Linked DNA regions of Homo sapiens. The protein of the gene in region 2 purifies or fractionates together with the protein of the main gene of each other region. This does not show direct contact. Each region holds a gene or a part of one and is shown on either strand. Other genes may lie near its edges.

What was found.
Region 1: the proteins of SGMS2 (region 2) and VCPIP1 purify together in Homo sapiens (co-immunoprecipitation; one large-scale study listed by IntAct). This does not show direct contact.

Annotation. Positions count from the first base shown.
Region 1 is NC_000008.11:66,632,732-66,636,555, forward strand, and holds part of VCPIP1 (deubiquitinating protein VCPIP1), read right to left. Parts: intron 2,642-3,824; coding exon 1,770-2,641; 3' UTR 1-1,769. UniProt on the Homo sapiens protein: Deubiquitinating enzyme involved in DNA repair and reassembly of the Golgi apparatus and the endoplasmic reticulum following mitosis. Necessary for VCP-mediated reassembly of Golgi stacks after mitosis.
Region 2 is NC_000004.12:107,831,331-107,835,154, reverse strand, and holds part of SGMS2 (phosphatidylcholine:ceramide cholinephosphotransferase 2), read right to left. Parts: intron 1-3,824. UniProt on the Homo sapiens protein: Sphingomyelin synthase that primarily contributes to sphingomyelin synthesis and homeostasis at the plasma membrane.

The DNA.
Region 1 (3,824 bases), on a different chromosome or scaffold from region 2:
AAGTGATATTTGTAATTCGTAGTTTAATACACAGAAGCCACCTTTACTAAGTAGTAAATAGTATTTGGTAGCTACAGCTCTTATTTTATGCAAAAATAGTGTACAATATAAAAGTTTAAAAATTTCCTGCTGTTTTGATAGGGAGAAAATTTAGGATGAAGATAAAATATAAAGACAAACGTGATAATGTGATAAAAACTAACCCAAATATATATTTTGCTCAGATACACCTGTAAAATGTCTAGATTCTCCATTCTTTCCTTATTTAAAATAGAGTAGTTTGTTTAAGAAGTGGATTCAGTTAGAGATACTTTCACAGAAAGATGACCAAAATCTGCCTTATCTGGAAACACAAGTTAAAGTACTGTCTATATCCCTTATGAATCAACAGGCAGAGATTTTTAAACATCTGATAAAATACTTTCTGACATACATTTTCTTAGAATTACAAACACAGTTCTGCATCTGTTACATGTGCAAACAGAGACAGCCAGGCTTTGAATGCTCTAGGTAAGAGATTGTATTAACATATATTTTGTCTTTCAGCCATTCAAATTCAACTTAATTTCAGTGAACAGAGAAGAATATGGGTTGAAATGTACACTTCAGGATACAGATTTGCAGAATAAAATAAAATAGTGCAATACCAATCTCAGGATAAACACTCTTCTGTTGTTTTTAAGGAATAAGCATGAAAGCTGCTTCTCAAGGAAACTGGCACTGAAGATTTGATGAATACACTAAGCAAATACCCAGCTGATCAGGGTGTGATGCAGTAAAATTTGCATCTAAACCCAAGTGAAGCCAACAAATAAACTCTTATGGATTCTGAAAAAAAAAAAAAAATTTTGGCTCAAAGGGGCATAAATACACTTAGCATATACAGGCTTAAATACCACTGATCAAAATTGTAGAACAATTAACTCATTCATAAAGATAAACTCTTATTTATAAATTCTCTACTGCTACCATTATTTCTTTTTCTACCACACTTTGCAATCAACTTTTCTGCAAGATTAAAAAAAAAAAAATCAGGTTGTTCTTGACCAAGCCAGGAATCAAAAATAATGGTAACATATTAATAGAGCACACACAATTGGCTGTGGCTCAGACAGCAACACAACTGAATCACATTGACCTCATCAATCTAGAAGAAATTTTTCCCCAATCTTGCACAAATCAGCAAAATGTTATATCGTTACATTCTATTCTCAAGATATTTTCGCCAAGAAATCTCTATGAATGTGTTTACGTTCATAGAAACATTTGCATTCCACTGTCTAATAAATAATTGTATGAATTTTAAGATACAATTTAGTTCAGATAAAATTCAAGTTTACATAAACCTTTTGACACTAGTATATGAGATGGTTACCTTGATGACATCAACATTAGCACAATCTCATTTCCCCTCCATTTGTAGGCTTTTCAGAAATCAAACGTATTTAAGTAAGAGAATTTTCATGTTGGAAACATTAAGACTTTCATGGAATTAAAATTACAAAGAACTTCCAATGAACCACATATATGGAAGAAAGTCATCTCAGCAGATCTAACAGCTAATTTATAGAAATTCAGAGCCAGCCTGGGCAGCAGTATATTAAAAGCTATGGCCAATCACACACTTGCTATCATGCACTGAATAACAAGATATAATCTTTGAATTATATACGTACAAGATTTTTAATGACTAATCAAGTTACGTGGCCCAGCCAACAAATATTACATATTCACAATAAACATTCTGCCTTTATTAGCCTCTAATTAAATCAAGAGTGATCCATTGGCTCAGTTGTGTTAGTCATCTCAGCATCTTGACTATCCATCTCTTCAAGCTCCTCCACGGAATTTCCCCTTTGTGCTTTTGACCTTGTGGCAAAGGCTGCTCCCAGTGCATCTGCTACACAGCCATCAGTTGTTTCTGTATTCAAATTTTCAGTACCACCAGTTAAAGGAAAAGATTCAGGCAAACCAGTCTGAAGACTCCCAGACTTTGCAGAAGAACTCACAACTTCTGTTTTCCTTTGAGGAAGATCAGATGGTGACTGCTCTGTACTTTGATCCCGAAGGTGCCTGTCCATTGAAGCCTGAATAGAAGAAACCATTTCCTGCAATTTTTTTCGCTGGGCCTCAACCAAATCAGGATCAAGCTGCCTGCCGTCTCTCATTGTTACTACTCCAGGAGCTATTCGAATAAGCTCACTATTACTAGAAGAAGCTGTGAATACAGAAGGCTCTGTTTTAGTGGAACTATTACTAAAGTCTGTCCCTGTATTATGCTTTCTTACAACTGAAGTTTCCCTAGCTCTTGGATCAAGGTGTGGGTTACCAGATGCAGTTCCTAAAGAATGCCCTTTTCCCTGAAAGGCAGTTACGTTATGAAGTTGCTCAGATTTCTTTTTCACTACTCCACCACTACCTAGTTTTAATAGCCCATGTGAGGGACTTGATTCCCTACTTCTTGTAGTAGCCTCTGCTCGAACCTGACTTACAGCCTCTTTAACTAAATCTTCAACATCAGGACCAATGGGGAAATGTCCTGCAGCATCCACACACAATTCCAGTCTATCTTCAGAAGCATTATAGACAAAGGTTTTGCCAGGCAGATGTGGAAAAGTACAATGCTTGCCATCAGCCATACCTAAAAAGGGGAAAAGATATTTAACATATTAAAATCTTAAGGTATTAATAAAAGTGTAGTCAAGACAATTATAGTTAAAATAATGAATTTTAAATAACAATTTACAGATAACAGCTTTCAAAACAAAATTCATTCAGATTTATTGTATTACAAAAAAGAACCACCGCCATAGACCCTAAAGTAGTTCTCCCCAGAGAATCTTTTTTAAAAAAATTTTTTTGCTATCTTAACTAACAGCAAAGTTAAGAATGGGGCTTGAGGTCACACAGTGGCTCACACATGTAAACCCAGCACTTTGGGAGGCTAAGGCAGGTGGATCACCTGAGGTCAGGAGCTCGAGACCAGCCTGGCCAACGTGGTGAAACCCCAACTCTACTGAGAATACACAAAATTAGCTGGGCATGGCAGCAGGCGCCTGTAATCCCAGCTACTTGGGAGGCTGAGGCAGGAGACTCACTTGAACCTGGGAGGCAGAGGTTGCAGTGAGCTGAGATTGCGGCACTGCACTCCAGCCTGGACAATAAGAGTGAAACTCTATCTCAAAAAAAAAAAAAAAAAAAAGAATGGAGCTTGAGGCCAGGTGCAGTGGCTCATGCATATAATCCCAGCACTTTGGGAGGCAGACAGGTGGATCACTTGAGGTCAGGAGTTCAAGACCAGCCTGGCCAAAATGTTGAAACCCAGTCTCTACTAAAAATACAAAAATTAGCTGGGCATGGTGGTGTGTGAGCCTGTAGTCCCAGCTACTGGGGAGGCTGAGGCAGGAGAATTGCTTGAACCCAGGAGGCGGAGGTTGCAGTGAGCCAAGATGGCGCCGCTATACCACTATACTCCAACCTGGGTGACAAAGCAAGACTCCATCTCAAAAAAAAAAAAAAAAAAAAAAAAGGTTTTGCAGGTGTTTCCAGATTGCTACTGAGATGCTTTTCCTTGGCTATCCCTAGAAAGAATCATAGTTCCACACATGTTCATCACAGTATTACTTACAATGAAACAATGGAAAAAAATCTAAATTTTCAACAAGAAATAAGTAAATTATTTCCTATCTACCTGTTGGAAGTATATGCAGTTATTAAAATTTAGATAAATAGGCCCGGCACAGTGGCTCACACCTGTAATCCCAGCACTTTGGGAGGCCAAGGTGGGCAGATCATGAGGTCAGGAGTTTGAGACCAGCCTGGCC
Region 2 (3,824 bases):
TTACACTAGTGCTATTGCTACATTGTACAAAGAGAAGACCTTTAACTGAATATAGGATTGTTATCACAGGGTTCCTTAAAAAAAAAACCCCATCTATTATTATAATTCTTATTCATTTTATTTTTAGAGATGGGGTCTGTTGCCCAGGCTGGAGTACAGTGGCATGATCATAGCTCACTGCAACCTCTAAATCCTGGGCTCAAGAGATTCACCTGCCTCAGCTTCCTGAGTAGCTGGGACTACATGTGTGTGCCACTACACCTGGCTAATTTTGCACGGGATAGGGATGGAGGCCTGGCTATGTTGCCCAGACTGGTCTCAAACTCCTGGCCTTAAGTGATCCTCCCACCTTGGCCTCCCAAAGCACTGGGATTACAGGCATGAGCAACTGGGCCCAGCCTCTTGTTCTTTTAATTTCAGAAGTTGACACTGTGATTCTGAGATATTGTCTACTCTAAGAGCCTATAGCCCTTTACATACTTACAATAGATGACCCAATGAATGATGTCACCTTTTGTTTACAGCTGTTGTTCTCTGGGATTTCATAATAACATTGCTAGGCAAATGAGAAAATACCAGATCTTTAAAAATGAAAAGGAACCTGGAGTAAAAATTAAGTGATAATCTCCACCATCCCAGTATCACCATGCTGGGACTATCATTTCACCCTAAACAAATGCAAAGGTATGACACAACTACATAGGATGCAGAGCCACATTCCTGTTAGGCAACTCTGACAAAAAAGATTCAAGTGGCTCTACCTGCTCCAGAATTACTAAGACACTTTTTTCCTGGAAACCTTGGTACTGTCATTTTAAATAATTGTTAGGTATAGAAATACACAGAATTATCAAAAGTTAACTCTCCCTCCCACAAAGTGGTTAATTTTACATATAAAATAAAACAGCCGTCAAAATGTAAACCTTGCTATACTTAATGTGTCTGTAATAAATCATGAGATCAGGCAGCCCTCTGCTAGGACTGGCATAAGGAACAAATCAAAACACAGATTGCTCTGTATTTGTTTCTACTGCTGCTCTACCACAAAGTTAGAGGCTTAAAAGAACACAGATTTTTTTCTCCTACAGTTCTGGAGGTCAGAAGTCCAAAATGGATCTCTCTGAGCTAAACATCACAGTGTCAGGAGGACTGTGCTCCTTTCTGGAGGCTCCACGGGAGAGCTCATTCCCTTGCCTCCTCCAGATTCTGGAGACTGTGTGCATTCCTTGGCTTGTGGCCTCCTTCCATTTTCAAAGCCAGCAATGGATGTTTGAGTTTTTCCAATAATGTCAACTCTCCTGCTGTGACTCTTCTGCTTCCCTTTTCCACTCAGAAGGTCCTTGTGATTACACTGGGCTCACCCAGATGACCCAGGATAATCTTAATGTCAACATCAGCTGGTCAGCACCCTTAACTCCATCTGCAACCTGAATTCCCCCTTCCGTGCAGGATGAGTGAGAATCCCTTATCTGAAATGCTTGGGACCAGAAGTCTTTTGGATTTTTTTTTGAATTTTGGAATATTGTCATTACTTTTCATATACATCTTATATGCAGATTGAAGGTAATTTTGTATGTTCTAAATAATTTTGTGCATGAAACAAAGTTTTGACTGTTTTAACTACGACCCATCATGTGACGTTAGGTGTGGAATTTTTCATTTATGGTGTCACATTGGCACTCAAAAAGTTTCAGATTTTGGAGCATTTTGGATTTTCAGACTAGGAATGTTCAAGCTGTGTAACACAACAGATTCATAGGTTCTGGGAATTAGGATGTGAACATCTTTGGGGAGCCATTATTCTGCTTACTACCATCTCCAACAGTAATTAGAAAACAAAGCAACCTCAAGTGTACAAGCTACTCTCCTCCGATAAAGATTTTTAACTATTTTAATTTACAACAAATGAAAACCCTAAAGCTAAAAAAATAAAAAGAATGCTGTTAGGACAGGAGGCCTGAGATTGCTGCTAGTCTTGCTCAGCTGAGTGTGCTGAGTGGGGGATGGGAGAATGCATGCTTCCTTCCCGGATCATCACCAGGGTCGACCATGCACTCAGAAGCTTTTACAGGGAAATGCTTGATAACACTATAGTGAAAATTAGTATCAACGTCTTTTTTCTTTTTTGAGAAAGGATCTCACTCTGTCGCCCAGGCTGGAGTGCTGTGGTGCAATCTTGGCTCACTGCAGCCTCAGCCTCCCAGGATAAAGCAAACCTCCCACATCTGCCTCCCAAATAGCTGGGACTTCAGGTGTGCACCACTACACCTGGCTAATTTTTGTGTTTTTTGTAGAGGAGGGGTTGCATCATGTTGCCTGGGCTGGTCTCAAACTCCTGGACTCAAGCTATCCACCCGCCTTGGCCTCCCAAAGTGCTGGGACTACAGGCATGAGCCACAGTACCCAGTCTATCAATGTCTTTCAATAGCAATATTGAAATATATAATCTAGTTGTAATCCTCCACATGGTAAACCAAGGAGTTGATCATATGTTTGAACAGGTGCAATTTTTTTCTTTGGCAAAATTGCATACACAAAGACACAAATAGGGCCCAAACTGTGAGAAACATGCTAGATTCCACAAGCAACAGTGCAGTGATTAGACTCTGCAGTCAAGCTGCCTGCTTTCAAAATCTAATTCAACTATTTACCACCTGTGTGGCCTTAAGTACGTGACTTAACCCCCCTGTGTTTCAAGTAGGATCCTTAAAGTGAATTTTAGGAGTAAATGAGTAACAGTTTTAAGTACTTAGAACAAACCCTGACACATAGTGAATATAAGTATTTGTTAAATAAACTTTTAAATGCTCCTGCTTGCTGCTTATAACTTGCCAATGAAACTATATTTCAAGGGAGCAAACTTCTCAGCCCTAGCTAATTTACCATATGGCATATATTTTATATATACGTAAATATATTCAATGACATTCATGCAGAAGAACTGGTATATTACACTAACCAAAACAATACCCTTTGTTGCTATGAAAGTTTGGTAGCAACTACTGGGGTAGTAATAACTGGGTGGTTCAACAACTCGCTGAACAAATGCAAATATCAGAAGACAGTAGCAGCTGTGTTAAATAAACTGTCTCAGGGCCTCCTAAAGAAAGACGCACAGCACTGGCGAGGACAGTAGGGTTTGTGATTCTTAGTGGCCCGGGCACTTTCTGGGACAGTGGTGTTCATGGTACAATACTCCCCAGAAGCCTAAGCTCTGTGAGGGACAGTACCAGTTGTGCTAGACTACCGCTACCAGCATCTGCTAAGAGGGCAGGCATATTGTGACTGTGGCTTGAAAAGCTTTTCAGCATTCACAGCTGATGTTATACACTTCTTATGAAAGTTCTTGAATTCAATGGCAGTGTACAACCAACTTCAATCATTTTATTTTAACCCCAAAGGAAACGGGGAGGGAAAAATATGGGACAGGCTCCAGCTCCTATTAGCACAGCCAAGATGTAACACTTGAATGTGGATATACCATTCCAAAAGATACATGCCACCTTAACGAGAAAGAATGGTTCCATTTGACACAACGGGACTGAACTCTTTGTTTTAAAAGTTAGAAGTGCAGCTTATATGCAGAAAATAATGATTGCTGAGCCCTTGAATATTTACCATGAAGCAGGCATTACTCTCAATGTTTTATACACAGGGAGCCATGTAATTCGTATAGTCACCTTATGGGGTAAATATTATTTTACTCCCATTATACAGCCAAGAAATGGAGGTTCACCTGTGGAAGCTGCTCCAGGGTATCTAGTGATGAGTGGCAGTGCTGTGACTCAGGTCCAAGCCGGCCTAAGCCTGTCAGGGTTCACCTC